Regions from separate parts of the Homo sapiens genome. Here all the other regions are linked to region 1. The links come from fine-mapping of genetic effects on gene expression. A gene starts in region 1. Each other region holds a variant in brackets. All regions are shown on one strand. Distances are from middle to middle.

Evidence for each region. PIP is the estimated chance that this variant, and not a neighbour inherited with it, causes the effect.
Region 2: its variant is fine-mapped to the expression of CBR4 in esophagus mucosa (GTEx, PIP 0.97).
Region 3: its variant is fine-mapped to the expression of CBR4 in monocytes (TOPMed, PIP above 0.99).
Region 4: its variant is fine-mapped to the expression of CBR4 in monocytes (TOPMed, PIP above 0.99). The same link has a PIP of 0.9 or more in blood mononuclear cells and whole blood.
Region 5: its variant is fine-mapped to the expression of CBR4 in monocytes after Pam3CSK4 (Quach 2016, PIP 0.95).

Annotation. Positions count from the first base shown.
Region 1 is chr4:169,007,544-169,013,801 of GRCh38, reverse strand. CBR4 (carbonyl reductase 4) reads left to right here and starts at 3,547. Exons shown (of 5, transcript NM_032783.5): 1 at 3,547-3,854; 2 at 6,046-6,166. The coding sequence starts at 3,713. CBR4-DT (CBR4 divergent transcript) reads right to left here and starts at 3,373. Exons shown (of 2, transcript NR_185919.1): 1 at 3,346-3,373; 2 at 2,742-3,018. RefSeq lists enhancers at 3,168-3,497, 3,597-4,546.
Region 2 is chr4:168,927,859-168,934,116 of GRCh38, reverse strand. It overlaps PALLD (palladin, cytoskeletal associated protein), which reads right to left. Exons shown (of 22, transcript NM_001166108.2): 22 at 5,676-6,258. It also overlaps a transcript of CBR4 not described here. Among named protein-coding and RNA genes, the nearest start is that of CBR4, 79 kb to the left of the region's middle. RefSeq lists an enhancer at 2,788-3,289. The variant A/C (reference allele first, on the strand shown) is at 3,898.
Region 3 is chr4:168,847,897-168,854,154 of GRCh38, reverse strand. All of the region lies in intron 10 of PALLD (palladin, cytoskeletal associated protein), which reads right to left. It overlaps LOC102723331 (a long non-coding RNA gene), which reads left to right. Exons shown (of 2, transcript XR_007058358.1): 2 at 1-6,258. Among named protein-coding and RNA genes, the nearest start is that of CBR4, 160 kb to the left of the region's middle. The variant AG/G (reference allele first, on the strand shown) is at 2,702.
Region 4 is chr4:168,858,101-168,864,358 of GRCh38, reverse strand. All of the region lies in intron 10 of PALLD (palladin, cytoskeletal associated protein), which reads right to left. It overlaps LOC102723331 (a long non-coding RNA gene), which reads left to right. Exons shown (of 2, transcript XR_007058358.1): 2 at 386-6,258. Among named protein-coding and RNA genes, the nearest start is that of CBR4, 150 kb to the left of the region's middle. The variant A/G (reference allele first, on the strand shown) is at 3,166.
Region 5 is chr4:168,968,402-168,974,659 of GRCh38, reverse strand. It overlaps a transcript of CBR4 not described here. Among named protein-coding and RNA genes, the nearest start is that of CBR4, 39 kb to the left of the region's middle. The variant T/AAT (reference allele first, on the strand shown) is at 3,224.

The DNA of each region.
Region 1 (6,258 bases):
TCAAAATGAAATAAACTTTTGTAAGTGATAAAAAGTACATTCCTTACAATTTAGATTACCCAGCAGATTGGATACAAGAATGCCAATGAGGAAATCAACATGCTTTTTAATCATAAAAGTTATATCTGTGCAGCCACACTAAGGCAGCTTTCTAATCTTTCTTCTTGAAAGAAGAGCATGGTCTGTATGGAGAAGTTAGCTGGCCACATGCAATTTGGGTCGTGCAGATTATCATCACTGCCTGAAGAATCCTGGGAGACTGCTTGCTGGCAGGAAGGGTTATGCTTCAATTATGGATCTGATAAGCTGGATGTGCTTAGTATGGTGCATTTGTAAAGAGGATTCTCAATGAATATTCAATCATAATTCATAAATTTCTTATAAATAAATTTTCCTGCATATTTGGAATCTTGGGCATTATAAATCTTGACGTATGAAAAAAATATTCATGAAAGGTACAACCCCCTTATAATTAGTTGCAGATTCAAATTTCGTATAACAGGGCAGTAGGCTTTAAATTACATCTTTTTCAATAACAGTTCCATTGGGATATAATTTGCATACGATACAATTCACACGCTTAAAGTGTACAATGCTTTCAATGAGTTTTTATTTACTTTAAAAAGTTTATGTTTTCTAACTGTTAGCAATTAAATGGTATTCCTTTTGTAATCAGAAAAGTAATACTAGGTATGCATATTTAAAAATTTGTATAACAGTCCTTATACATAAGGAATTTTCTCCTTCGATTGTGGGAGCCAAGAGAAAATATATCCTATGTGGATTTAAGTTAAAGTATAACATATGGTTAAAATATTACCACAAAAGTGGCATGTTTAGTGAGAAGGAAAGACTAAAGGTGGGTCATTCTAATGGCTTCCTTCAATGTCCTGCTGGGTAGGGGAGACCCAGTTTAATTTACAGATCCTCACTTCACTATCAGGGGCTTACAGAGAAACTTCCCCTGCTGTAACCTTCTCAGCTAATGGGTGATGTGCTGTGATAGATGTATTCTCACCCGGGATAGTGGTGATATTGTATTAAGAGGGAAAAAAAATAAATAATAACCTTGAGGTTTAACCTGAGGTATGTGTTGAATAAAAAGCCCAGCTTATCCATTTACAGTATATATACAGTGAGAAAAGTTGGAAGGTTTTCAGAATTCTGAATGTCACCTCATATCATGTGTTAGTGATCTTCATGATAGATGGCATAGATCTAAAAACCATTTTTTTTTGCTAAAATAACAATGTGTAGAAAAAAAAATAATCATTTTCCTAGCAAATGGAGAGAACTGTTCAAAAGATAAACCTCTCTGGTTTGACCTAAGGTGCAGGAATACAGTTGGCATTTAGGCTGACCCTTATATTGGTAATTTATGTAAAACAGTTTTTTCTTTCCAAGATTGCATAGTGTATAGTAGGAAAGTGAATAGACAAATTTGATCTGACCCATTTTTACATCACTGGGAAACTGTTTGTTTGTTTTTTAGAACACTGTTATTTTGAGACAGGGTCCTGCTGTGTCATGCAGGCTGGACTGCAGTGGTGCAATCATGGCTCACTGCAGCCTTGACCTCCTGGACTTACATGATCCTCCCAACTCAGCCTCCCGAGTAGCTGGGACCACAGGTAGGCCACCATGTCCAGCTAATTTTTTTTTGTATTTTCTGTAGAGATGGGGGTCGGGGGGGTGGGGGTCTTGCTGTGTTTCCTGGGTTGGTTTTGAACTTCTAGACTCAAGCAATCCTCCTGTCTCAGCCTCCCAAAGTGCTGGGATTACAGGCATGAGCCACCACGCCTGGCCTGCTAATAGTTCTTAAATGCAGCTCTTATCTTATTACTTCTGCAGTTAAAGGCCTGTTTAATGCTTGGCACCTGACTTTAAAGCTGACTATAATATAGCACCATCCCAAATTTCCTCAGGCTTGTTTCCTCATTGTTTCAAACATATATTGTTTCAAAGACACAATTTTTATGTGTGACTGTTTGCTTATATTGTTTAACTTCCTATTGTATTTGCTTTTAATAAAGTCTAATAGATGCTATGAAAACAGCCTTACAATCTCTTTTTCTTTTCATGAAGCTCACTGTCTACTACAATGCTTAGTGTGCCATTTAGGAGGACCTATGAGGAGGGAGTTTTGCTCAGGCTTCTCTGCTGCATAACCAGGAGGCTGATTTCTTACAGAAATTACCACTTGTAATTATATTTCCTTTGTTGCTTTCGCTGGCAGGAAACTCTAAGTTTATGAATCTCTTCTTTAATACTAAATAGATTCTTATAGCATGACTTTATTCGTATTTTTTCCACTGACCTAATTTATTGTTCTGGCCTTGTGGGAGAAGGGGCAGTGGTCCTCTTTGCCTTTTAAATTCAAATACTCATGTATTTTTGCAAACCATTTCAAATCTTTTTTTGGATCTAAATGGAATAGGAATAACAAATTTAAATTAATGCTCAACTTGCTTATTTATAGACTTTTTGCTCTTGTTTTCCTTTTTTCAAACCTCATCCAGCCCTCAAATCCAGCTTTTCCATGCACCCCTTCATTCTTCACTGATCTCCATTTTCTCGGAGCTCTTGTGTTAATATAATTTTGCATTTTACTAAGTATGATTTTGGATACCTCCTAGTGTTTCATGTGTATTAGTCCTGTAGTTCTGGGTTGTAGTTTTTTTAGTGGTAGGGACCATGGCTCATACTTTTCTGAATCTAGTAAAATAATATTGTATCAGAAATGCTTTCTGTTTACACTATAATTGTAACAAACATTGAATTTTTTAGCTTATTAACTCTCAGAGCACCCAGTACATCTTATTTAGAATTGCAGGAACCCATTTTTGTTTCTCTACAGCAGCCGAAGCTTGTTTCATAGATCTTGCAAGACTATTCAATCATTCAGTTAAAATTCCTTGACCTCCTGCTGGATGATGTTCGACAGGGCATTCATCTTCACGACACCCTTCGCGATGAATGGTAACATCTGGGCGGGTAGAGGTCCATTTCTACAGCAACCTGGGGGAGGAACAGGTAGGGTAGGTTTTGGTGTGGGTGCGATTCTTGGGGACTTCTTCAACAGGTAGGACATCAAGTCTGTAGCCAAAACAACACCTGGGCGAAGGGCAAATACCGGAGCCCCGACCGGCTCACGCCCAGTAATGCTTTCTCTGGGTTCTAACTACGTGATCAGGTCGTCTTGGTTTGCCAGGGAAAGCCCAGCGTCTTGACAACCCTGTCAGTTCCGAACAAACCGGGTCGATTGGTCACCGGGGCTCGAATCCCGACTGATATGACCCAGCGGGGACAGAGGATCCCCCTCAGTGCCACAAGTACATTCCCCACCGAGCAGCGCGCCTGCGCCAGTTGCTCTCATGCGTCAAGACTACAGGTCCCAGCAAGCATCGAGGCCCTCTCCAGGCCATTCTTCCGCCGGCGGGGAGCTCTCGTCGGCGTATTTGTTAGGTGTGGCGCGGAAGAGTCCGTGCGTGATGACGTCGACGCGGCGACGTCGAGCTCTTCCTCCTTTTCACGGCGTCTTGCATTACTATTGTGCGGCTGCAGGAGGTGTCGAGCGGCGTTATTTTTTTTTGCGGTTTGCCTTTTTTTTTCTTTTTTTTTTTTTTGGAACCGCGGTTGTTTAAAAGCCTGAGGGAACCTGGAGAGGGGCTCCCACTCCCTACCCTCTTTCCTCCGAGTTTGTGACTCCGAGATGGACAAAGTGTGTGCTGTTTTTGGAGGCTCCCGAGGCATTGGCAGAGCTGTGGCCCAGTTAATGGCCCGGAAAGGCTACCGACTGGCGGTCATTGCCAGAAACCTGGAAGGGGCCAAAGCCGCCGCCGGTGACCTCGGCGGTAGGTACCAAACTGGAGTTGTCCAGTTGTATGGCCGCGGTCCAGGCGCCTAAAGAAAATCTCCTTTGTAAAAAGAGCGGGTCTGGCCTTTAGGGCTCTAGGGTTACTCGATGTAGCCGCGTGCAGGCGCTCTCCCGTTCCAAGGGTAGAATGCGTCTCGTGCAGAAACCCGCGATCTCCCTATGCCTCGCAGAATGCCGGCCACGCAGCTTGCCGCCGAGGGCTGAACACTTGGGGTGTTCTTTGAGACCTCGTAGTCTTTTGAGGCCCCGCTATACGCACCCTCCGCCCTGCGGCTAGTGCTAACGCTGAGGAGCTTCCCTGTTGTGGGAGAGAGCCACGTAACAGTTTACTTTTAATGTAGGGAAAAGGGCGAGTTCTCGGCCCCCGGAGACAGGGCTGGGTCGAAAGGAGTTCAGGCAGGAAAGGTGGGAGTGCAGGTACCAACGGCTCCCTTCAGTTTTGCCCAAGGGCCGTGCCTTGGCCCTGCGCGAATGCACAAAGCAGTGTTTGATAGAGAAACCCTTTTGAGTACCAGCCAGTTTTGAGATATACCTGGTTTGCTTTAATGTTATTAAATTGTTTTGGTGAGTTTTGCAAATGGACAATTGAACTTTGTTCTGCCAAATTCTTTTTTATTGCATTTAAACTTCAGGGTTTTTTATTTCCGGCTTATTATGAATGGATTAGTCATTTTGTGAATATAACTCTTCATTGAGTTTAGGGAGAAATAGGACGTTAGATCCGAAGATGCTATTTGTTTAATCACCAGAATGGACAAAATTATACTTCATTTACTATCAGGGAGGCATGGGGAGAATAGAGGCCTAGGGGTGCGTCTTGTGGCTCTTACTGTTTTTGTGTATCTGGTTTTTTTTTTTTTTTTTTGAGAGGGCTTCCCATTATGTTGCCCGTGCTGGACCCCAACTCCTGATTTACTGGCTCTAGAGATCTTCTCGCCTCAGTCTCCCAAGGACCTGGGACTATAGACGCCAGGTGTGGCTGTTCATTTTTAAGTTAACATTATTGATCGGTTTGGTATCACCTGTTCAGTGCTGGTTGGGAGACTATTGGGCTCTCTAAAAGAAAAAAGATTCTGTAAGTTATAGGTCAGGGAGAGTGTCAGTGAATGCTTCTTGAAGCTCATATTCCTTACCATTCTAACAAAGGAGGGGAAGAGTGGTGACCCTTACTGTGTCACCCCAAGCCATCAGTGTTTGCTGGACTGGATTGAAGCCATTAGTTGGGCTTTCAAAGGTGGTTGTGGACACAAGTCTTCGGGTGAAAACCAAGAGTAAGAGAGACACAGGATGCTTTTGGGCCCTGCATTCCTTTGAATCGTGTTCCATGAGTGATTGGTTTTCATCTAGAAAGTATAATTCCCCGGGTCGCTTACTGTTTCCAAAGGCTTGATGGGGTAGTGTTGGTGTAAGCATATTTATCAAGGTCAGACAGAAAATAAAGAATTGTTTTAGCTTTTAAAAACAATCCTACATTTTAGAGTATTAAAATGGTAGATTACATAGGGAATGCTTTGTTTTCCTTTGAAGTGTAGTTTTTTTTTGGCATTTAACCATTTTTTAAAAGTGGTAAGTAACAGTTGCTTTTAGTAAAAAGTGTTTTTTTCCCCCCGTGGTTTGTAGTTTTAGCATTTTTATAGCTTCCTGTGTTGTCTCATCTCTCCTGATGGTCAGGTTTGAATAATAGTCGTTATAATATATGTGCCATAGTGCATCCGTAGCACTTAAAAAGAAGAAACCCAAGAGTTCCCGTTCAGGGCCAAAGAAACTAATTCAACAAAAACCTGACAGAATTAGACATAAATTTCAAAAAAGGAATATAAAACCCAGAAGACTGTCGAATTGGGTAGCATGAATTCAGTGTTAAAGCTATAAATATTAGATGAATCTTACAGAGCCTTTATAACTTGAAAAAGCCCTCCCCCCTTTGTTGATTAAAAAGAAAATTTTAAAATTAACTTTCTGTAGTAGTACTTTATTTCCTCTTTGTTCCCGCATCCCAGTTTCATTAGACCAACTCTATGAAAGCCAGGCCTCATGACATTACTTTTTTAATCTTTAGGTTCTAGATTAGCACAGGCCTGCCATCTTAGATAGATGCTTAACAAATGTGTATTGAGTAAATTTAAAATTTGAGTTATAAGTAATTCTTATTTAACTTTGTTGTGTAGGAGATCATTTGGCATTTAGCTGTGATGTTGCTAAAGAACATGATGTTCAAAATACATTTGAAGAGCTGGAGAAACATTTAGGTCGAGTAAATTTCTTGGTAAATGCAGCTGGTATTAACAGGTTGGTCACAGATTTAAATAAGTTTCTTATATATATATTTAAAACTTTTATTCCTAATATGTCTTTGATTGGTATAAGTTAATATGTTTATT
Region 2 (6,258 bases), 80 kb after region 1:
TGCCCAGTTTTTTCCTAGATTCTTAAGATGAATCATTCGGTTATTAGAACTCTTTTTACTTTTTTGATATAGATGTTTATTGCTGTAAACTTCTCTTAATCATGCTTTTGCTGTATCACACAGGGTTTGGTATGTTGTGTTTCTGTTTTCATTTGTTTCAAGGAATTTTAAAATTTACTTCTTAATTTCTTCCTTCATCCATTGGTCAGTCAGGAGCATGTTGTTTAATTTCCATGTATTTGTACAGTTTTGAATATTCTTCTTGTTATTGATTTCCAGTTTTATTCCATTGTGGTCAGATAGGACACTTGATATGATTTCAGTGTTTAAAAATTTTTTGAGCTTGGTTTGTGTCCTAATATATGGTCAATCCTGTAGAATGTTCCATGTGCTGATAAAAAGAATGTGTATTCTATTGCTGTTGGGTGAAATGTTCTGTAGGTGTCTGTTAGGTCCATTTAGTCTGTAGTACAGTTTAAATCCAATGTTTCTTTGTTGATTTTCTGTCTAGATGATCTGTCCAGTGCTGAAAGTGGGGTGTTAAAGTTCCCAACTGTTATTTTATTGAGGTCTATCTCTCCTTTTAGATCTAATAATATTTGCTTTATATATCTGGGTGCTTCAGTGTTGGGTGCATATATATTTACCATTGTTATGTCTTCTTGCTGAATTGATACCTTTATTATTATATAATGTCCTTCTTTGTCTCTATCACTTTTTACTTAAATAGCCTGTATTATCTGACATAAGAATAGCTACTTCTGCTCACTTTTTGTTTCTGTTTGCATTGATTATTTTTTTCCATCCCTTCACTTTCAGTCTTTGTGTGTCTTTTACAGGTGAGGTGAGTTTTTATTTGGCAGCATATAGTTGCATGGTTTTTTTATTCATTCATTCATTCAACGTCTTTTAATTGGGGAATTTAATTTATTTACATTCAAGGTTATTTATTGGTAGGTGAGGACTTAACTCTTGTCGTTTTATTGATGGTTTTCCGGTTGTATATTCCTTTCTCTTTAATCCTCCTTATTGTTTATTTTTGTGGCTTAGTGGTTTTCTGTAGTGATAAGGTTTGATTCCTTTCTCTTTCTCTTTTGTATATCAGCTCTACAAGTGAATTTTATAATTTCATTTGTTTTCATCATGGTGGTGGTTATTGTCTTTTCACTTCCAGATCTAAAACTCTCTTGAGTGTTTCTTGTAAGGCTAGTCTTCCCTTAGCTTTTGCATATCTGAAAAAGACTTTATTTTCTTTCATTTCTGAGGAATAGCTTTGCTTATATTTAATAAAGAATATTAAAGCAATATTCTTTACTGGCAATATTTTTCTTTTAGTACATTGAATATATTATTTCTTTTTTTCCCGGCCTGTAAGGTTTCTGCTATCTGCTGTTGGCCTAATGGGTATTCCCTTATATGTGACTTGACGTTTTTCTCTTGCTGTTGTTAGAATTCTTTCTTTGTATTTGACTTTTGACAATTTGACTATAATGTGCCTCAGAGAGGAACTGTTTAGGTTGAATCTCTTTGGGGACTTTAAGCTTCTTAGAGCTAGATGTTCATCTCTTTTCCAAAACTTGGGAAGTTTTTTGCTGTGATTTCATTAAATCTGTTTTCTATACCTTTTTCCTTCTCTTCTCCATCTGGAGTTCCAAAATGCAAATATTTGTTCACTTAACAGTGTCCCATACATTCTGTAGGCTTTCTTTATTCTTTTTTTTTTGTCTGCATGAGTTATTTCAAAAGGCCTACCTCCAAGTTCAGAAATTCTTTCCCCTGCTTTGTCTAATCTGTTGTTGAAGCTCTTGATTGCATTTTTTATTTTATTCATTGAATTCTTCAACTCTAAGATTTCTGTTGGGTTTTTTTTTTTTATGTTCTTTGTTGAATTTCTCATTCAAATCATGAATTACTTTCCTGATTTGAGGGAACAGTTTAGCTATATTCTCTTTACCTCACTGAGCTTCCTTAAGATTATTATTTTCAATTCTTTTTATGGCATTTCACATATTTCCTTATGATTAAGGTGTGTTACTGGAGCATTATTGTGTTCTTTTGGAGGTATCATGGTTTCTTGTTTTTTCATGTTTGATATGTTCCTTGATGTTGATTTCTATGCATCTGGTAGAACAGTCACCTCTTCTAATTTGATGAAAGGTTTTGTAGGGAAAGACGTATTTGTATTGGAGGATCTTATAGTGTCAGTTAGGGGGGGTGTGTTGGCTTTGGTTCTAGGTGGATGCAGTACTGTAGTGTCTGTGCAGATTCTTCAGCTGTAATCCAGTCTGCTGATGTTTGTAAGTGCCCAGTGGCCTAGGCTGTGAGAATTTGTAGCAGTGGTGGTGCAGCTTTGCTGGGGTGGGCTCACTGGATTGTTTCTCAAATTGGGGGCATGTGTGTGAACGGTGTCAACCAACTTGGGGTCTTGCTTGCTGGGATTGGGGCCACAGGGATGTTTCTCAGGCCCTGGGTACAGGCATGCTCATTTGGCCTGGGGGTGTGTCTGCCAGAGGTGGGCCAAGTGGGCTGTTTCTTGGGCTTGGGACAGTGGTGTGCCTCTCAGCCAGCCAGGGGGTGTGTCCATGGGGGTTGACCCCATGGGGCTCTTTCTTAGGCCCTGGGCATGGTCATGTGACAGCTCACCTGGCCCAGGGGTGTGTCTACTGGAAGTTAATCTCCCAAGCTGTTTCTCAGGCCCTGGGCATGGGCACAGGGCTGCTGGGAAGGTCTAGGGACATGTATGCTGGGATTGGGCCCACTGGACTGTTTCTCATACCCTAGCCTGGGCACAGTTCCACTGGGTAGGCCTGGAGGCATGTCCATGGAGGTAGGGGGCATTGGGCTGTTTCTCAGGCTTAGGAGATAGGCTGGTACTGGTTCTGGCCTGAGGGCATGTCAGGTGCTTAGCAGCTCAGGGGCCCAGTTTGGCCAGCTCAAGGGTAGGTATGTATGCTTTGGGAGAATTTGCTAGACTGTTTCTCTGCCTGGAAGTTCAGGCAATGATGGTTGGTTTTCCTGCTGTGCAGAACCAGAGTCACAGCCAATCCTGGGCCCAGGTTCTGAGCCTCCAGGGTTGTGGCATTGCAGCCACCCATGTGTGCTTGGTGGAATGACAGAGCCGCTGGGCTGGAGAGGTGCATTTGCTACTGGGCCCCACAGCAGGCACCTAAGGGGTGGAGAGTACATATCTCATGTTCCTAATCCAGAGGAATGCAGCTGTGCAATCGACAGTGGCTCTCTAAAGTCGGTTCAGGGCTTGTGAGGACTGTGGAATTCTCCTGTAGTAAGGATTGTAGGTGTTTGCAGTGGTAATGGGGGCTGATGGGGCTCTGCTTACGTTTTCCCAGCAAAGGAAAGTTTCTCCTCTTGACTCCAGGCCAGTCAGAGTTGGGGGATGCAGGGGCATGGGCAGCAGAGACAAGGTGTCTCCATGCTGCCTTCTGGACTTTCAGTGACCGCAGCTACCCCCACTGCACTCCAGTGCTCTTCCTTTGACACTTCAGTTGAATGTTAACTGTTTGTTCATTTGTTGATCCTTTCTTGGGGGGATGAATGCCAGGAACCTCTAGTCAGCCATCTTGCTGACATCACTCTTATGTAACTTCCCTTCCTCGTCAAATGCTGTTTTTCATATTTATCCCTGCCAATAGAAGTAAATCCATTTCTTTACCTTTAACTCTGAATAGTAAGTAATATTTCATTGTATGAATTAATTAGTTTTGTTCCTTCTTCTACTAATGACAAATTAGGCTTTCCTCAAATTTTTTATCCTTTTCTACGTATTTAAGCTTCTGTAGGGCCTGGTTCTTAATTTTTTTGGTGCCATATGCCTTTTTGACCCTCTGGTAAATCTTCTGGATCCCTTCTCAAAATAATGTTCATGGAGGCATAAAATAC[A/C]TAAAACAAATTATTTTTAAGTAATTATCAAAGTATTAAAAACAAATTTATAATACAAATGCCTATAAATTACATCTATTGGTAACTCTAACAACTGCCATAATTTTGAAGTAATGCTGAATTTAGATGGATTTTAAGATATTTCAATATTTGTAATATAATTTTTACTAGGACAGTCCCAGGTATTTTATACTGTTGTGTTTTGTTGCCTACATTCATAATTGAAGGAAATTCTAAATTTCAGCTAGGGGGTAATGTTTTTCCCATCCAAGTTCACAAATTTTAACCATCTGTGGAATTTTGTTAGGTGTGTACACATTTTGTAATTGAAATTTTACTTTAGTTTCCAACTACACTAAAATAATAGCTGAAATTTATTGAGCTCTTACTATGTGCCAGGTACCATGTCAAAATTATCATCCCATATAATCTTCACAGCAGCACAAAGAGAGGGGTGCTATTTTAATCTCCATTTTCCAAATAAGGAAACTGAGGCTTGGGGAGGTAAAGTAACTTGCTTATGGGTCACACATGATCAAAAGAGCTAGGATTCAAATCCTGGTTGGCCAACTCCAACACTCAAGTTCCTCACCACCATAATATAGAAGTTGTATTTCTATAATTTAAAGGGGTCAAACTAAATTTACATGATGATAAAGGAGGTTGTAGCTACTGAGCAAGCCAAGGGGATTGTCATGTTATGCATGTTCATAAAAGGGAAAATCAAGGACAAATTCAGCATTAAAATATATAATGAATCTTGTAAACTACATAGCAAGTCATGGGGTATAGAAGACAATGTGAAATACACAATTCTAGTCTAATTCAAATGTATCCTCAAAGCTCCATTATATTGCATATGTAAAAGATGAAATATTTTCACCTTATGGAGGCTGTGAATTAGATAAATGACCAGCTTTCTCTTTCCCGTAGTAGGAAAGCCTAGGCCCAAATATGTTGTCCGTCTGTTGTAACTATGTAGATATTAATGCTATATGTGTATATGAATATGGGTGTGTGTGTGTGTGTAATATCTCATTCCTTGTTCCATTTATACTTACTTTCTTCCTTTTCCCCTCACTTTTAATTTATATCATCTTGCTGTATTTTATGTATCCTTGTACGTCATGGCACTGGTGTGTATTTACATGCATACCTACAGTACATTGCTGTGGCAGGCAGAACTGTAAGATGGCCCCTAATATCCCCATCCTCTGGTGTATACACACCTTCTCTCAGTTATTCCAATCAAATGGCGATTTAGCTGCTGCTTTGAAGGGATTTGCAGATGTAATTAAGGTTCCCAAAGTCAGGTGACTTTAAGAAAGGGAGATTATCTGGATGGGCCTGACGTAATTTAAAAGGGACTGGGCCTTTGACAAAGAGAAAGTGTGAGAGGGATCTGAGGTGAAGGAGATTCTCACCACTAACCCTGAAGATGGAGCGGGCTACATGGCAAGGAATACAGGCGGCCTTCAGGAGCTGAGAGAGAGAGCTCCTGGCTGAGGGACTAAAGGAGACGTCTCTTCTACAATTGCACAGAGCTATCACAACCACTTGAATTTTGAAGAGGATCTTGAGCTCCAGATGAGAATACAGTCCAGCTGATACAATGATTTTAGCTTTATAAGATCCTGAACAGAGAACCCAGCTACATCCTGCCCGAACTTGATTTACAGAACTGTGAGTAATAAATGAGTGATGCTGAAGCCTCAAACATCACTCAAAGTTTATGCTAATTGTTATGGCAGCAACAGAAAACTAAAACTGAATATTTATTTTGCTTCACAAAACTGCAACTATTATTTGTCAAATATTTATTGATGTTAAATCCACATTACACCAGCACAACAATCCAAAGTAGTATGATTGATTGATAGTACTTTTTTTTTTATAAATACAATATAAAGGTGGCAAAATAATGCTAGTTAATCCCAAACCCAGCAAATCAGCAAAAAAAGGTCACATTCAGAAAAATTTGGCAAGTAAGACATAAGTCATAATTCTACAATAGAGATAGGTCCATGAGAGACTGTGTATGGTATCTTAAATTCCATATTAGCAATGCATATAAGTGCGGTCAAAGAAACTTGAACCACACTGCATAGAACATCTGCCACCCGGTGCTCAAGCCTATTAATCACTTAAACCTTGGTTGGTTGGTGTTCTTACAAAGAAGTAGAAAGCTGTACATGTGAAACAGTAATATGAAATATATGGGGTGGTACACAGATATAAAATTATTTTAAAAAATACTACGTATGAATTGAGTAACTGAGCTAAGAGAGGCCACTTATAAATAATGAAAGATACATGTGTTTTGCATAAGGAATACAGTGTTTTCTTTTCATAGCAAAGTAC
Region 3 (6,258 bases), 160 kb after region 1:
AGTAAACAGAGGCAGTAGTAGCAAACATTTACTGAACACTTACCAGGAGACTCTAGACAAATTTAATCTTTCGTACCTCTGTTTTCTCATCTATGTAATGGGGTAATAATAGAACCCACAGAGTAGGGCTGTTGCAGAGATTAAAAGAGAATAGTGCTTAGTTGTTACTGGAATCCTCTCTTCCTCTTTAGTCAGTGGCACCATCCCTGATCCTGTTTCACAAGTCAGAACCGCAGAAGTCAGAGCTGCCTGTCTCCATCCGTCTCATCTCAACCATCATGAGTCCTGCCTTTCCCTCTCCTACACTTCTCCCACACGCTGTTCTCTTCCATGCAGCCAGTTTCAAAAACCACATGGAATCCTGTGACTCTTGACTTCCCTGTCCCCAGTGACTTTCGCTTGCTCTTGGGATCAACTCCAAATTCCTTCACCTGGCCCACCAGGCCTGGTCGCCCCCTGTAGCCTCTTCTTTTCTCCCTCCCACCCCCATTCTCAGAGTCTCAGCCCTTCCCTTCAATGTGCGATTCCTCCTGACTGCACACCTGTCTCTGTCTCCCATTTAGCCTTCAGATGTCAGGTCAAACATCACTTCCTGAGGCTCTTTCCTCAGGCCTCCAAACCACACGAGGTCTTTCAGTTTCCTGCCCTCAGAGGTTGTGGCACATTTTTTTCGCAGCATCTGCCACACCAGCACTCCTTACATGTCTTTTATCTGGTCTCTAATAATTCCACGCACCCAGGCCCTTGAGGGTCTTTTCTAGCTTTGGTAAAATGCGAGCTGGGAGGGAGGATGCTGACAGAGGAGTGAGTAAAGGCTGGTCTAGAGGGCATCTGAGAGCTTCTGTGGACTTCTTCTAGAAGGACCATTGATCATCTGTAAAACAACCTGTATTTGACTTTTAAGGCCAAAATTTCTAAGGAAAAAAATGTCTGTACACACATGGGAAAAGCTAGTAATTATGCTGGCTAAAAGAAAAAGTTACTCTGTGAGATGCTCATATATGAAGTCCTCTCAGATGTTGCTATCTCACTTCTCATTTTCCTATCAATAATTAGCTATGTGTGACTTTTCTCCCTTTACACTGCAATGTGGTTTCTTCTGTTTTTCCTAAATGGCTAAAATTATGAAAACTAATTTATTAGTCCTAAAAAGTAAACTTGACATTTTTTGTAAAGTTTAACAGTAAATAAAGAGTTAATATTACCAAAAACAACTGAGGCAGGGAAAAGGGCAATTCCAGTGCAAAGTCTACTACCCACTGATATCTGTGATACATAAAATATTCTAAACACAACATGTAGGTTTCTTGATATCCACACCTAGAAAGCATTAGAGGGAATTAAGAGAAATTGTAGCCGATTAACTCATCTAAAAGCCCACAAAGCAGAATAAATCTAATTACCATGGCTTAAGGCAAATAATACCTCTTGCAAAATAACCAAAAATTCAAGCTTAAAGAGCAACTACACTCTTGTAGGCACTACTAACTTTGTGGATGGTTCTTTCCTTTTGAGACAGGGTCTCACTCTGTTGCCCAGGCTGGAGTGTGCAGTGGCATAGTCACGGCTCACTGCAGCCTTGACTTCCTGGGCTCAAGCAATCCTCCTGCCTCAGCCTCCCGAGTAGCTGGCACTACAGGTGTGAGTTACTGCACCCGGCTAATTTTTGTAGAGATAGTCTAGCTATGTTGCCCAGGCTTGTGTTTTTGTTTGTTTCTTTTCTTTTCTTTTCATTCTACCTTCTTTCCCAGCTCTCTCAATGAATTTAACAAATACTGATTGAGCTTTTACTACATGTTGGGTGCCAGAAATCTAGTAGTGATCAAAACAGACACAGCACTTGCCTTCATGAAGCCACATGAAGCCAGCAAGTACAGTGTGGCCTAAAACAGAAGAATGTTTAACTGCATGAAGGCAGGGTGCTTTGTATTGCTGGGCTTGGTGTATATTTCTTTGCTATCTAGTTTAATATATTGAGCTTTACATCTGTGCCAGCCTTGCATGTCCATATACCTTTGGCAGGCATTTCTAGTCAGGTGGCATGGGGCAAGGGGTGTGCTACGTTTTAAGTCCCTCATTTCTCCAGCCTGTCCAGGTAGTGTCTACGTCTCCAACTCACTCAGGAAGGCAGGAGACTTCCAGATTCACTCCACTGGTATCAAGAGTTAGGTTCTGGTGAGAGAGCTGGCAGAAGCTTCAGAGGACCTTGCGTCTTAGCCTCCTCTTTTTTTCCTGTCCTCAACAGCAAGTTGTTGCCTCTAATTTTCAGAAAATCGCAGCACATTTCCAGGAGACCTGAAATGCGGTGGACTGCTTCAACATTAGATTATTTTGGCAGACAGGGATAGTATTTAGTGTAACGTCACCTATATGCTTATCAAATAGGGGTAAGGGAGTCATAATTATTTTAATGTCTAATATTAACGGTTCTTTAATAAATTACTTATTAAAGTTCCAAGGTATAAGTCTTTTAATAGAAACAGGTTTCAGCCAGGCGTGGGGCTTATGCCTGTAATCCCAGCACTTTGGGAGGCCAAGGAGGGTGGATCACTTGAGGTCAGGAGTTCGAGACCAGCCTGGCCAGCATGGTGAAACCCCGTCTCTATTAAAAATACAAAAATTAGCTGGGCGAGGTGGTGCTCGCCTGTAGTCCCAACTACTAGGGAGGCCGAAGCATGAGAATTGCTTGAACCCGGGAGGC[AG/G]AGGTTGCAGTGAGCCGAGATTGCGCCATTGCACTCCAGCCTGGGTGAAACAGCCAGACTCCGTCTCAAAAACAAAACAAAACAAAAAACAGGTTTGGAATGAATGCAAAAAATCTACGAGAGACTGGCCAGTTGTACTATTAAGTTATCAAACAGTTTTATCCTGCCTCTCTCTTCCATTTTATATATTTAAGTCACTTTTAATTTATGGGGGTATGGAGGAGAGACATATTCTGGAGATGGAGAAAATAAAGGTAAGCCAGACTGTGGGTCCACAGGCTCTGCAGCAGGGAATAAATGTTGGTGCAATTGGCAGGTTAGAGACACATGGGAGGAAGGGAAGAGGATGTAAAGAGACAAAGACAAGAAGGGAGACTGTAGGAAGCTGTGTGTGTGCTGCTGGCCTGGGAGACGGCACCCACTGACCTCCTCTGGCCTCTCAGTCACACTTGGGCCAGATTAATTCATTCTGCAAACTTTTCTTGCCTGCCCATGGAATGCCAGGTACTGAGCTAGGGTTCGCAGACACATGCTAAGCAGCAGTAAAAAGAGCTTATTTTGTATAATACTCAGCTACTACTGAGCTAAAACTAGGAGAGCATATTAGAAATGACAGACTTAGGCTGGGCGCGGTGGCTCATGCCTGTAATTCCAGCATTTTGGGAGGCCGAGGCGGGCGGATCACCTGAGGTCAGGAATTCAAGACCAGCCTTACCAACATGGAGAAACCCCGTCTCCACTAAAAATAAAAAAATTAGCCAGGTGTGGTGGTGCACGCCTGTAATCCTAGCTACTCAGGAGGCTGAGGCAGGAGAATAGCTTGAACCTGGGAGGTGGAGGTGGTGAGCCAAGATCGCACCATTGCACTCCAGCCTGGGCAACAAAAGCAAAACTCCATCTCAAAAAAAAAAAAAAAAAAAAAAAAAAAAGAAATGACAGACTTACAAATTATATAAGTGAGAAAAGGAGACTGACTTTCCCTACAGTATACCGCATTTTTTCCAGGCTTTTCAAACAGGTTTGCAATGTGAACAATCGTTATCTTCTAGAGGACTTTTATGAAGGATTTTAGTAGTGCAGGCCTGGACATACCATATTAAAAACAAACCATTTTAGAGTCAGGGAAATGTTTCCCTCTTATCTTTTAAATTCTTGGTGGGGAGTAGGGGCTGAAGGGGGAGCATTCATTCCTTCCAGGAGCCAGGTTGCAGAAGAAAGCACTCTCACACAGGAGCAGGAGGGCTGAGGCCTCGCGAGCTACCCCCACGCTTGGTTCTGGCAGATCACTTACATTTCAGGACCTAGGCAGATGAAGTTTCCTGGCTATATGCTAAGACAAAACTTTTCCTGCTTAAAATCAGATCTTTCATTTTTTAGTATTGAGTATAAGGGAGGATTAAAGGAGTTTATTGCTTTAAAAATTAAGGAAATACACTGAAAAACTGGATAGGAGTTTATTCATTGTATTTTATGACACCAAAGATGAGCAAATGCATTCGTAAGTATACATAATAAAATAAATATAGCCTGGCATCTCTTTTAATGGAGGTAGCTTGGGGGTGAGAAGAGGGAATGGGGAAGATAAGCTGGGGGCCAGCTCTGAATTCTTTATGAGCCCCCTGATGCAGCCAGCCACACGTGGTGTGAATCTCAATAGTGCCAGTTCTTCTTTCCAAGGGTCAGTGTTTTTTTTTTTTTGCTTTAAAAATGGGGATAATAATACCTGTAATGAGATTTCTTGTAAAGTTTAAGTGAGGTTATAAATGTAAAAGTCTAATGTCAAATCTGGCTACCAAGAATTCAAATTTTCTTTCACTTTCCATCAATAATGATAAAACGTGAATATTAAGCATGGTTTGGATTGAAAACCTTCTCAGGGTCTCAAAGTCTAGTCGAGAATTCAATTCAGACTTTAAAAAGCAGACATTCAGTTCTCTCCAGATTTGTGAATGAATGCATTGTTACTAAAGAAGTTTCAGTGCCAAAATATACACTGTCTCTTCCTTTCTCCTTTTTCTTCTGCAGCTAAGTCGGCCAGAGCATTCTAGAAATCACCTTAAAAACGCATCCCTCTTCTCCTACTGGAGTTTATACAATGACAAAAATCTGATCTGGCTTTTTCAAAAAGCAAACAACAAAACATCCAAACAACATAACCCTGAGTCTTTAACAGAAAGCTGGTGCTTGCACCAGGGGCGTGCAGACGTCTGGAACGCATTACAATCAGCTCCCTAAGGGGCAGCTTATCTCTTCCTCTGATGCTATCGGTTTGCCAAGGAAAGTTAAAGACAAAAGTCAACTGTTGCACCCAGTTGGAATGTGAACATGTGGGAGAACCTGAAATATACTAAGACTAATTTATGTTCCGATGGGAGTGGCTCTCATGGTAAGGACTGAAGCAGTATATCCTGCTTTTTTAACGAATTTTTTAACGAAAAAAATTCTCACAGCCTGCAGGAAGAGCTACAAAATAACCCCCTCTCATCTTTACTGACTGTAGTTAGTACTCTCGTGTTGCATTTTAGGGAAAGTTCATTTGTGTCTGCAGTGGACTTCGAAGTTAATCATACCACAAAACTGTAGAGAATGAACATCTTGAAATTATTTCAGAAATAAGAGCTCCAGGTAGCCTTTGAGATTGGTAAAGTTTAGAAATAAAGTATACTTACAAAGCTGCATCTTATGACGTTGCAAAAGACTGATTTAGGATCATTATTTGGTGTGAAATACATTTTGCCAATGTAAGCCTTTCCTTTCAACTGTTTAAGGCATAGAATACTAGTACATTCTACATTTAATGTTTGAATTCTACCAGTTTTAGAGCTCAGAACTCAAATTAGCATCGTTCTAAGTTTGACAATAACCCTCTTTTTGCTTTTAATAGTGTCTCCCTTCATGTACTGAGTGTGCCTACGTTTTCCTCGAATTGTTTTCTCATCAGTGGTGGTGTGAGAAGCCTTCTTTTAGGAGAAAAAACACAGAACACCACCAAGTAGATCTGTGTCTAAGATGGCCAGTGCATTCGGCACACTCTCTGGGCTGACAGGCACTGAACAATGGCTCTTGCTCAATAGGCCTGGTTTCCAGTCACTGACAACAACGATCAGTACCTTCAATCTCTAAATTACACAAATTTACAGCTTTGATTTTTAGTCTTAGAAGCCATCAAGGACAGGCCCCAGGACAAAACAAAGTGGCTGGCTCCCATCTGCTGAGTAAGCAGAAGGGACAGTGGAGGAGTTCCTCTCAGTTTGCTTCACTTTCACTTTGCCCAGGGGTGGGGTGGGGTGGGGTGGGGTGGGACGGGGGTAGGGTTGCCGGAGGAGGCTAACTCAGTCCTCAGTCACCACCTGAGGACCACTCTCCAGGAACTTAGCACCCCCTGGGCTCAGTTTTCTTAGAGGTTAAATGAGTAGATTAGGCTAAATTCTGGCTCTAAAATTGAGTAACTATTACAGGGAAGTAAAAAATAATTCTGAATAATACTGATTGGGAAATAGAGTGTCAGAATTAGTTCTACAGCTAATTAGCTCTCTCTTAATATGCCTGGGACTTA
Region 4 (6,258 bases), 150 kb after region 1:
TCACTAAAAGGCTTAATCTTTTAAATAACTGAACCAGAAAGTCGTTTCTAACAAGAATACAGATAAACATTACAAAGAACAAAGAAAAGATATGTTCAAAATCTGTCAGGTTCCAACAAGGGTTACTTTTTCCCTGAAGAGAGAAGATGAACCATTGCCTAGAAGTAATGTGTAGCTGACTGTCCCGTGGTTCTATGTCTGAGTAACACAGTCTCATCTCTCATGTGTATGTGTGCATATATACATGTATATGACTATAGTGGTATCAGCAATCATGTATATTTTCAAGCTTAAATATGATGAAATTGTTAAAGGACTATAGTCCTAATTAAAACTAATACAGAATATACTTAATCACACTTCTGTTCCTAACTTGTCCTTTTAGGCATGATCTTATCTCTTGATTGTGGCCACCCGTAAAGAAAAGCGTATCTCTAATCTCAGAAGCACAAGGAGTTCATACCAGGAAACCAAGATTAGTAAGTATTTTTGTGGTGAATACCTTTTGAATAAGACAGGATTAATGTAACAGTTAAAAGTATAGAAATATAAAAGTTACGAACTTACTGGTGATTTTTTTCTTTGGTGTGGACATTTGTTGATCTTTAAAATATATCACAGGAGTAAATAAAAGATCTATAGAATTTACAAAAATGTCAAAATGAACCAGAAGACAATAAAGTCACTCAAGATATATGTTAATGACCTCATAGAGGAAACTTTTTTTTTCCTTTCAGGAACATCATGCTATCGTCTTTCAAAATTACTATGTAGGATCAGTGGAACACTAGACACTGACAGAGTGGGCCCTGCATCCTTCACTGCTTCCTCATGGAGGGATTTCCAGGACAGGGGCCCTCTTTGCCTGTCTCCGCCCTTGGTGGCGAATATGGGTGGGGGATGGATCTGGGCATGCTCACATCAGCCCCTCCCTTGCTCTTCTCTCTTTGGATCTTGCTTGCAGTGAGAGGGCTTTTTCTTCCTGTTTTTTGGAGGGTGAGATCTGCGCGGAGCTGTTCAATGCTGCCTGGACTGGGTATTAGTATGCTTAGCTCAAGGTGAAGTATAAGCCAACTCATGAGGCCCAGCAGTGCATCCCCTTTCTTCTCTGAGTTCTCCCCAGTACAAATCTGGTGCTTGGATCTCTTTCTGACTCCTCAGTTTATCTGTCAAATGGTTCCAAACTTGAGTAGGGTGAGAGGATCATCCCCCGTCAAATGTACATTATTCATACACTGTAATGGCGTAAAAGAACCCTAGACACATGGACTCCCTTGCTAATAAGTGCACCTTCAAAGCGATAGTCATTATTTAGCATTTATCGGAAGAGGCTGGCCCCAGCTCTGGTGAAGGGCAGAGAAGGTGTGGGTGGCCTCACGTGTTCTCAATGTCACAAAATGATAGCATTAAACAGACCCACTCCCTCATGGAAGGCAATTTGACGACCTTCTATTGATATTGCAACATGTGTCTCTGGCAGCAGATCTCAATCCTTATGTAAGGGATATGGGAAGACTTCCTCCACTTCATGTATATGCTTTCCCTAAGCAGATCTGGCAGATGCAAATTTATCCATATCTTTTCATTTCCATTGAAGTTTTAGTATCCACATCCCCTCCTGAAGACAGAAAACTTGTCTTTGTAACCCTTTTTATTTCAGCTGATCTAAATAATTAGTTCAGATTTACCCTGACAAATGGCTTTTACCATTTTTAGTTTCTTACCCTGTAACAAAATACTGCCATCAAGTTTTGATTATGAAAATGGCTGAAGGCAAGGGACCATATGAGAGAGCGCAATCAACAACATAGTCTTTTTGCCCAACAGAATTGGACATTTTTGGCTTAGAGAATTAAAGCACAATGACTGTTCCTGAAAATCAGTACAGTAGTCATAATAAAACTTTTTTCTTGGCTGGGCACAGTGTTGCATGCCTGTAATCTCAGCACTTTGGGAGGTTGAGGTGGGAGGATCACTTGAGCCCAGATCTTGAGACCAGCCTAGGCAACACAGTGAAACCTCGTCTATGCTAAAATAAAAAAAAAAATTAGCCAGGTGTGATGGTGTGAGTCTGTAGTCCCAGCTACTTGCTTGAGCCCAGGAGAACAAGGCTGCAGGGAGCCATGATCATGCCACTACACTCCAGACTGGATGACAGAACAAGATCCTGTCTCAAAACAAAGCAAACAAAACAACTTTTTCTTTTTAAAATTGAACTACTTATTATAACTGCAGACATTTCTATACAATATTTCTTTTTAATCTCTTGAAATTAAATCCTATTTTTTAAAGAATACACATGATTAAATACAAACAAAAAACCCCTCCAAACCCTATTGGATTTCCAACCTCAGCTCACAACTGATACCTTATACAAAAGTTAACTAATATCAGTCTTCAACAGGCCAGGGATGGTGGCTCATGCCTGTAATCCCAGCACTTTGGGAGGCCGAAGGGGGAGGATCACTTGAGTCCAGAAGGTTGAGACCAGCATTGGCAACAAAGTGAGACCCTGTCTCTACAGAAAACTAAAAAATTAGCTGGGCATGGTGATGCATGCCTGTAGTCCCAGCTACTCGGGAGGCTGAGATGGGAGGATCAACTGGGCTCAGGAGGTCATGATCTTGCAGCCACAACACTCTAGCCTGGGGGACAGAGCGAGACCCCATCTCTAAAAAAATAAAAAAAAATTAAAAAAAATCTTCAACATAAATGTGAATCTAAAACTATAACATTTCAAGAAGGAATCATAGGAGAAAATCTTTGTGACCATAAGTTAGGTAAAGATTTCTTAGATAAGACAACAAAAGGGTGATCCATAAGAGAAAAAAAATTGATGAACTGGGACTTCATCAAAATTAAAAACCTCTGCTCTTCAAAATGCAAAAGATATAAAGAGAACACTGAAAGTACATCTTCATCTCTTACTTTTTCTTCCCAGTCCAATTTCCCTCTCCAGCATCAACCAAATACTGTTACCATTTCTCAAGTTCCCTCCTAAGCCAGCCCATACATAATAAGCATATAGATATAAGCTGTATGGTGGTTCTAATGCTTTTTTACTTAGTTTTTTTTTTTTAATTCCATATTCAATAGATTTATTCGATTATTCAGTGTAGTCCTACACTCCCAAAAGCATTCACTGGTCATCCATGTAGCCGAGGC[A/G]AAATTCTTTGCAAGTAATTAGTTTTGAAGTTTACTTAAGCAAATATGGAAACAAAACATTAAAATTTTTAATTCGTTTGCCTTGGCTAAAACAAACAAAAAATATTTCCTAAGTTATCAGCTCACTGTGTATTATTTAGGCCATACTTCATATTTTAGCTATGTCAGCTGTGGTATCCTGGGGGAAAGATGTTGTCATGTGGGGCCTCACACCAAAATATTATTTGAAGTACATAGAAACCAGCTTCTTCAATTTCTTCCATTTCTTTGGGCATTGTGTTTTCAAATAATGAAATTCTCTCTTAAAGAAAAATGAGGATCTCTTTAGTCACGTTGAGGACTAGAGGAAGTATTTTCCTCAGGCTGAATTTTTTGTTTTTTGAGACTCTGTCATCCCAGACTGGAGTGCAGTGGCACGATCTCAGCTCACTGCAACCTCCGCCTCCTGGGTTCAAGTGATTCTTGTGCCTCAGCCTCCCAAATAACCGGGATTACAGACGTGCACCACCAGGCACAGATAATTTTTGTATTTTAGTAGAGACAGGGTTTCACCATGTTGGCCAGGCTGGCCTCAAACTCCTGACTTCAAGTGATCTGCCCACCTCGGCCTCCCAGAGTGCAGGATTACAGGCAGTAGCCACTGCGCCTGGCTCTCAGGCTGAATTAAAATCACCTTTCACACTCCACAGCACAACTTACTTCCCAGATGACTCACTCAACTATTGGAGTGAGCAAGAAGAGTACTCCCATCTCTCTTTTACTATCTTGTTTTATTTACTTCACAGCATTTATTACTGAAATGACTACACTGATGTATTTCTTTTTAGACTTTCTGCCTCTGCCCCGACTCCAGACCTGGGAGTCCGAGGGGGCTTCTGTCCAGCTGTGCATGGCTGTGGTTGAGGGTCTGGTGTCAACAGATCCTTCTCCACCATATCAACTCCATTTCTACCACTGGGATTGGCCCTTATTACTGTTACCTGGTTTGTACACTCAGCAGCAGTTTTCAGACGCGAAAAGATAAGAGATGAGCATTTAGAGTAATTATCATCAATTCTGCAGCACTGTTTCGGGTGTAAAGGTTGTGTGTTCACCCGATTTCACATCCTCCAGACCTGCACTGTCCCACTATGGTAGCCATTAGCCACATGTAGCTATTAAGTGCTTGAACAGTGGTTAGTCAGAATTGAGACGTGTTGTAAGTGTCAAGTACACAGCAGATTTAAAAAATTTAGTTTAAAAAGATATTGGAAAATGATCTTATGACAATTTTTATATTATTTACATGTTAAAATAATATTTTGAATATATTGGGTTAAACAACATGTACTATTAAAATTAATTTCTTTTTCCTTTTTAATGTGACTACTAGAAAACAAACTGCATATGTGGTCTTCATTGTGGTGGTTCACATTCTGTTTCTACTGTACAGTGCTCCTTGAGGCCTAGTTCTAAAAGTTCCCTCACTTCTCACAAGGGTTACTGTCTGTTTGTCCTACTAGAGGTTCGCCAGATGCTCTACTGAACAGGAATTATACAGCAGAGCCTCAGAATCTAAGGACTTGGTCTCTGAGGGACCGATATTTGGGGTAGTGGTGATAGATTTGTCCATGATAGTGGCAAAAAGTTGTCCTCCAATTTTTTACAAGTTTCCTATTTGCTGACTTCCCATCAAGTAATATTAGAAATGATTCTAAGCTTGCATTTCTCAAGCCTTTCCACTCTTCTAAGACATCCACACATGGTCAGCATGTCTGGGGCACCGTCGGTGCTACCCATTGACAGATGAGAGCCCTCCATCTCCAGCAGAGCCTTCTCCTTCAGGCAGTGAGAGAAGACTCCGCTTCCATAGACAGGATCATCCTGTTCAGATCAACTACAAGGCCACAGTTGTAAAGGAGTCAGTCCTGCCAGCAGCTGTGAGCATGGATAACTATCAGTCATGGGGAGGAAGCTGTCGCCTCCAAAGATTTAGGGTAAAAGGCAGAAGATAGCAGGCTGTGGGGTGGAGATGAATTTGACTTTTCTCTCACGTGAAATGCAGGTAAGCCCCGAGTCATGTAACAGAGCAAAGCAAAAATGTTGTAACACGTTGACAAGAGGAAGGAATGACCAATTATAACGCTGAGGTTTTATGTTTAAATGCTACAAATTTTTCTCCAGTTTATAAATACATTTAAATAAAAGTCTTAATGCAAAAGTACAAAAATGATAGTCTACTGTCTTAAGACGCACCGACTATTTTTATATTTAGAGTAAGGTGAGGGGGATGGGAGTGAATCCAGATTGAATAGTGCCAGACAATGGGCAGAACGGGACTCTTAAACACACATTATCTTTCTTCCAAGAAACTACTATTGCTTCCTTCTTAAAGCCCACTCTGGATTTTTTTTTTTAATTTTTATTTTTTTTGAGACTGGGTCTCATTCTGTTGCCCTGGTTGGAGTGCGGTGGCACTATCACGGCTCACTGCAGCCTCGACCTCCCAGGCCCAAGTGATCCTTCCACCTTAGCCTCCCAAGTAGCTGGAACCGCAGGTATGTGCCACCGTGCCCAGCTAATTTTTTTACTTTTGTAGAGATGGGGTCTCCCTGTGTTGCCCAAGCTGGTCTCCAATTCCTAAGCTCAAGCAATTCTCCTGAGTTGGCCTCCCAAAGTGCTGGGATGACAGGCGTGAGCACTCTGGAAAGTTAATACAATCTTCTGAACCAAGGTATTGTTATTAGTTATCCATCTTTTGACCCAAAAACCAGTATCTCAGAGAAACATGCCAAATTAAAGAGATTACAATGGATACTTTCTTCACACTCGAAATAAAAGATAGCATCTTAATAAAAGTATTTATGCTTGATCAAACTTTATAAAAACAAGATGCCGGGAAAAATATCTTCCAGCCCATTTATGAGTGTATAACTTAAAGAAAAAATGACCCCTGATGTACTAACTTTGTGTGGCTAAATATAGTTAGCAGCCCTCATGCTTCATAGCCCATTTTCCCCTGGAATTCAGCTAATATAAATAAAACAAATGAAGGGAACCTGGCCCCCCTCCATGAAAATTACATCATTCTTCCTTATTAGGAAAACTTCTTCA
Region 5 (6,258 bases), 39 kb after region 1:
CCAAAGACCAGGCTTTTGAATTAACCCAATCCAACAAAGACAAAAGAGAATAAAAAAAATGAACAAAGCCTCCAAGAAATTTGGGAATTATGTTAAATGACCAAATCTAAGAATAATTGGTGTTCCTGAGGAATAAGAGAAATCTAAAAGTTTGGAAAACTTATTTGAGGGAACAATCAAGGAAAACTTCCCTGGTCTTGCCAGAGATCTAGACATCTAAATACAAGAACCTCAAAGAACACCTGGAAAATTCTTCACAAAACATCATCACCTAGGCACATGGTCATCAGGTTATCAAAAGTCAAGATGAAGTAAAGAATCTCAAGAGCTGTGAAGCAAAAGCATCAGGTAATCTATAAAGGAAAACCTATCGGATTTCCAGCAGTTTTCTCAGCAGAAACCCTGCAAGGCAGAAGTGATTGGGGTCCTCTCTTTAGCCTCTCTTCAGCCAAGAATTTTGTATCTAGTGAAACTAAGCTTCATAAATGAAAGAGAGATAAAGTCTTTTTCAGACAAAGAAATGCTGAGCGAATTCGCCACTACCAAGCCAGCATTACAAGAAATGCTGAAAGGAGTCCTAAATCTTGAAAGAAAATCTTGAAATACACCAAAATAGAACCTCCTTAAAGCATAAATCTCACAGGATCTATAAAACAATAACACAATGAAAAAAAGCCCAAGGTATTCAGGCAACAACTAGCATGATGAATAGAATAGTACCTTACATCTCAATACTAAAGTTGACTATAAATGGTGTAAATGGTCCACTTAAAAGATACAGAATGGCAGAATGGATAAAGATCATTCAAGACTACTATGAACACCTTTATGCACACAAACTAGAAAACCTAGAGGAGATAGATACATTCCTGGAAATATACAACCCTCGTAGATTAAACCAGGAAGAAACAAATTCTGAACAGACCGATAACAAGTAGCGAGATTAAGAGTAATTAAAAAATCGCCAACAATGAAAGGCTAGGACCAGATGGATTCATGACTGAATTCTATCAACATTCAAAGAAGAATTGGGGCTGGGTGTGGTGGCTCACGCCTGTAATCCCAGCACTTTGGGAGGCCAAGGCAGGTGGATCACCTGAGGTCAGGAGTTTGAGACCAACCTGACCAACATGGTGAAACCCCATCTCTACGAAACATACAAAAATTAGCTGGATGTGGTGGCAGGTGCCTGTAATCCCAGCTACTTGGGAGGCTGAGGCAGGAGAATTGCTTGAATCCAGGAGGTGGAGGTTGCAGTGAGCTGAGATCACACCATTGGATTCCATCACAGGCAACAAGAAAAGAATTGGTACCAATCCTACTGAAACTATTCCAAAAGATAAAGAGAGAATCCTCCCTAAATCATTCTATGAAGCCAGTATTACCCATATACCAAAACTAGGAAGGAACATAACAAAAACAACAAAAAAACTACATATCAATATCCCCAATAAACATAGATGCAAAACTCCACAACAAAATACTAGCTAACTGAATTCAACAATATATTAAGGATAATGCACCATGATCAAGTGTATTTCATGATGGGGACGCAAGGTTGGTGTAACATACACAAGCCAATAGATGCAATACACCACATAAACAGAAGTAAAAACAAAGATAATGATCATCCCAATAGATGCAGAAAAAGCATTTGACAAAATCCAGCAGCTTTTTATGAGTAAAACCCTCAGCAAAATCGGTACAGAAGGAACATACCTTAAGGTAATAAAAGCCATCTATGACAAGCTCACAACCAACATTATACTGAATGGGGAAGCGTTTAAAGTATTTCCTTTAAGAACTGAAACAAGACAAGGATGCCCACTTTCACTACTTCTATTCAACACAGTACTAGGAGTCCTAGCCAGAGCAATCAGACAAGAGAAAGAAAGGGCATCCACATTGGTAAAGAGGAAGTCAAACTGTCACCGTTTGCTGATGATATGATCGTATACCTAGAAAACCCTAAAGACTCATTTGGAAAGCTTCTAGATCTGATAATGAACTCAGTAAAGTTTCAGGATACAAAATCAGTATATACAAATAAATATCACTGCTATACACCAACAGCAACCAAGCTGAGAATCAAATCAAGAACTTAACCCCTTTTACAACAGCTGCAAAGAAAATAAAATATTTAGGAATATACCTAACCAAGGAAGTATAAGATCTCTACAAGGAAAACTACAAAACACTGCTGAAAGAAATCATAGATGACACAAACGAATGGAAACACATCCCATGCTCATGGCTGTGTAGAATCAATATTGTGAAAATGACCATATTGCCAAAAGCAATCTATAAGTTCAATGCAATTCCTGCCATAATATCATCACCATTCTTTACAGAACTAGAAAAAGCAATCCTAAAATTCATGTGGAACCGAAAAAGAGCCTGCATAGTCAAAACAAGACTAAGCAAAAAGAACAAATCTGGAGGCATCACATTACCCGACTTCAAACTATACTACAGGCTATACTTATCAAATAGCATGATACTGGTATAAATATAGACCAATGGAACAGAATAGAGAAGCCAGAAATAAAGCCAGATACTTAATAGCCAACTGATCTTTGACAAAGCAAATGAAAACATAAAGTGGGGGAAAGCACACCCTATTCAACAAATGGTGCTGAGATAATTGGCAAGCCACATGTGGAAGAATGAAACTGGGTTCTCATCTCTCACCTTATACAAAAATCAATTCAAGATGAATCAAAGACTTAAATCTAAGACCCAAAACCATAAAAGTTCTAGAAGATAACACTGGAAAAACTCATGTAGACCTTGGCCTAAAGAGTTCATGGCCAAGGACCAAAATGCAAATGCAACAAAAACAAAGATAAATAGATGGGATTTAATTAAACTAAAAAGCTTCTGCACAGCAAAAGAAATAATCAGCAGCGTAAACAACTCACAGAGTGGGAGAAAATATTCAGAAACTATCCATCTGACAAAGGGCTAATATTTAGAATCTACAGGAACTCAAATCAGCAAGAAAAAAACAAATAATCCTATCATAAAGTGGGCTGAGGACATGAGTAGACAATTATCACAAGAAGATACACAAATGGGCCAGGTGCAGTGGCCCATGCCTCTAATCCCAGCACTTTGGGAGGCCAAGGCTGGTGGATCGCTTGAGGTCAGGAGTTCGAGACCAGGGCCAACATGGTGAAACCCTGTCTCTACTAAAAATACAAAAAAAAAAAAAAAAAAAAAA[T/AAT]GAGCTGGGCATGGTGGTGTGTGCCTGTGATCCCAGCTACTCGGGAGGCTGAGGTTGGGAGGATTGCTTGAACCTGGGAAGCAGAGGTTGCAGTGAGCCAGGGTTGCACCACTGCACTCCAGCCTGGGTGACAAAGTGAGACCCTGTCTCAAAAAAGATAAAAAATAAGATATACAAGTGGCCAAGAAACATATGAAAAAATGCTCAACATCACTAATTATCAGGGAAATGCAAATCGAAACCACAATGTGATACCACCTTATTCCTACAAGAATGGCCATAATTAAAAAATAAAAAAATAATAGATGTTGGCATAGATATGGTGAAAAGGAAACAGTTTTACACTGCTGGTGGGAATGTAAACTAGTACAACCACTATGGAAAACAGTATGGAGATTCTTTAAAGAACCAAAAGCTACCATTTGATCCAGCAATCCCGCTCCTGGGTATCTACCCAGAGGAAAAGAAGTCATTTTATGAAAAAGACACATGCACACGCATGTTTATAGCAGCACAATTCACAATTGCAAAAATCTGGAACCAGCCTAAATGCCCATCAACCAACGAGTAGATGAAGAAAATGTGGTATATATATATATATATCATGGACTACTACTCAGCCATAAAAAGGAATGAAATAACAGCATTCGCAGCAACCTGGATAAAGCTGGAGATTGTTAGTCTAAGTGAAGTAACTCAGGAATGGAAAACCAAACATCATATGTTCTCACTTATGAGTGGGAGCAAAGGCATTAGGAATGACATAATGGACTCTGGGGCCTTGCAGGGAAGGGTGGGAGGGGGGTGAGGGACAAAAGACTACACACTGGGTGCAGTGTACACTGCTCAGGTGATGGATACATCAAAATCTCAGAAATCACACCTAAATAACTTATCCATGTAACCAAATACCACCTGTTCCTTAAAAAATTGAAATAATAATAATTTGAAAAAAATAGTCTATTCAAAAAAAATGTTCTTTTGTGGATTGATGAGGACATAAAACAAAAATCAGGTAGGGAAGAAATTGAAATTGGTTCTTCACATGATACACAAAGGTAAATTCCAGATGGAAAAAAGTACTTAAATATCAAAATAAAATGCTTGGTAGAACATATGGAAGTGAATATTTTTCTGATTCTGGGGTGTGGCGGGAATTCTTAAACATAAAAAAGAAAAGTTTGGTCAAATTGACTATATTAAAATTAAGTCCTTTTATTTATCAAAAAAATCCCTTAAAGATAGCAAAGACTGATTACAAACTGATAAAAAGTTTATGCAATATAGATAACTAATAAAGAGTCAGTATCAAGAATATATAATGCAACAATAAATCAATAAGGATAACCCGTTAGGAAAATGGGCAAAAGATAAAAAACAGGCGTTTCATAGAAGAGGAAACACATAGCCAGCATGTGTTGAACCTGTGTTCACACTAGAGATATGCAAATCAAGACCACATGAAATTTCGTTGACATTTGAGTGGCAAAAATTAATAAGTCTGATAATATCAATTGATATAGGGCAGGCCTTCTCCAACATCAGCAGGAATTACCTATGAATCTTTTTTTAAATGCATCATTTGATTTAGTAGATTTGGAGTGGGGCCTGAGATGCTGTATTTCTAACAGATTTCCAAGTGATGCTGATTCCACTGGTCTGTGGACTACAATTTCAGTTGCAAAGTTGAAGAGTATGTAGATCAGCGGGATCTCTTAAATATGAGAGGTCCGTTTTTGTTGTTGTTGCTGTTAGCCGGCAGCCAGTCTTTGCTTCTAGAGGCTGCCTGCATTCCTTCTCATGTTTCCATGGGCAACATGGAGGCTCAGTCCACTAGCAGTGGCAGGTTGAGTCCCACTCATGCTTTGAATCTGTTGAACTCTATCCTTCTGCTGCTGTTTTCTGACCAGCTAGAAAAAATTTCTTTGCTTTTAAGGGTTCATGTGATTATACTGGGTCTAGCCAGATTATCCAGGATAATCTATATTTTGAAGTGTATAACCTTAGTTATATTTGCAAAATCCCATGAGCCATGTCACGTAAAATTCACAGGATCCAAGGATTAGAGAATAGGCATCTCTAGGGGGATCATTCTGTTTACCGTAATGAAAAATTATGATCTTTTGCTCAGTTCCCAGACTTGGACCAGTTCTCTGATCCAGACCTAATCAATTGAAGGGTCTCCTTCATGAAGAACCCTGCAATAATACAGCAAATGTACACAGAGCAGCTGTCCAACCTTTCTCAAAGGAATCTATGCTCACTTGTCCAAGTAACAGTACACTGGAGAAAGGAATCTAACCAGGTGTTTCAAAGATTCTTGGGAATACAGTCAAGCTAACATTGTTGCTTGGGTACCCAAAACACCACAGTGGCTCTGATGTTAATGGGAGCATGTGGAGATGGGGTAATGAATGGAGTGCTGGCCCAAATCTGTTTTACACTTCGGTCCACTGTGTCCCTAGACATACTCTGTGGTCATTTTCCCACTTCCTGAATGCATAATCAGCATGGACATATTTAATAACAGGCAGAACCATCACACTGGTTCTTTGACTTATGGAGAGAGAATTATCATGGTAGGAAAAGACAAATAGAAACCACTGACCCTTCTCTTTCTCTGCAAGATAGTAAATCGGAAATAATACTATATCCTGGTAGAATGGCAGAGATTAATGTCAGTCTCAGTGACTTAATGGCTGAAGTGTGGTGATTCCTATCATATTCCTACTTAATTAATGAGACTGTCCTTGCAAAGGACTGATGGAATGTGCTAGGTGATGGTAAACTATTACAGTACATTCAATCAAGCAATTTCCTGGCCACAGCTGCTATACCAGAAACGGTATCTTGACTAGATGAGATGAACACAGCCTGTGGTACTTCATAAGCAACTATTGACATGGAGAGTGCATTCTTTCAGTTCCTGCCTGACAGGAAAGAGAATCAGAAGGAGTTCACATTCACTTGGAATTGACAAAAGTATACATTTATGGTTGTGCCCTAGGGCTGTATCAACTCTTCTGCCCTCTGTC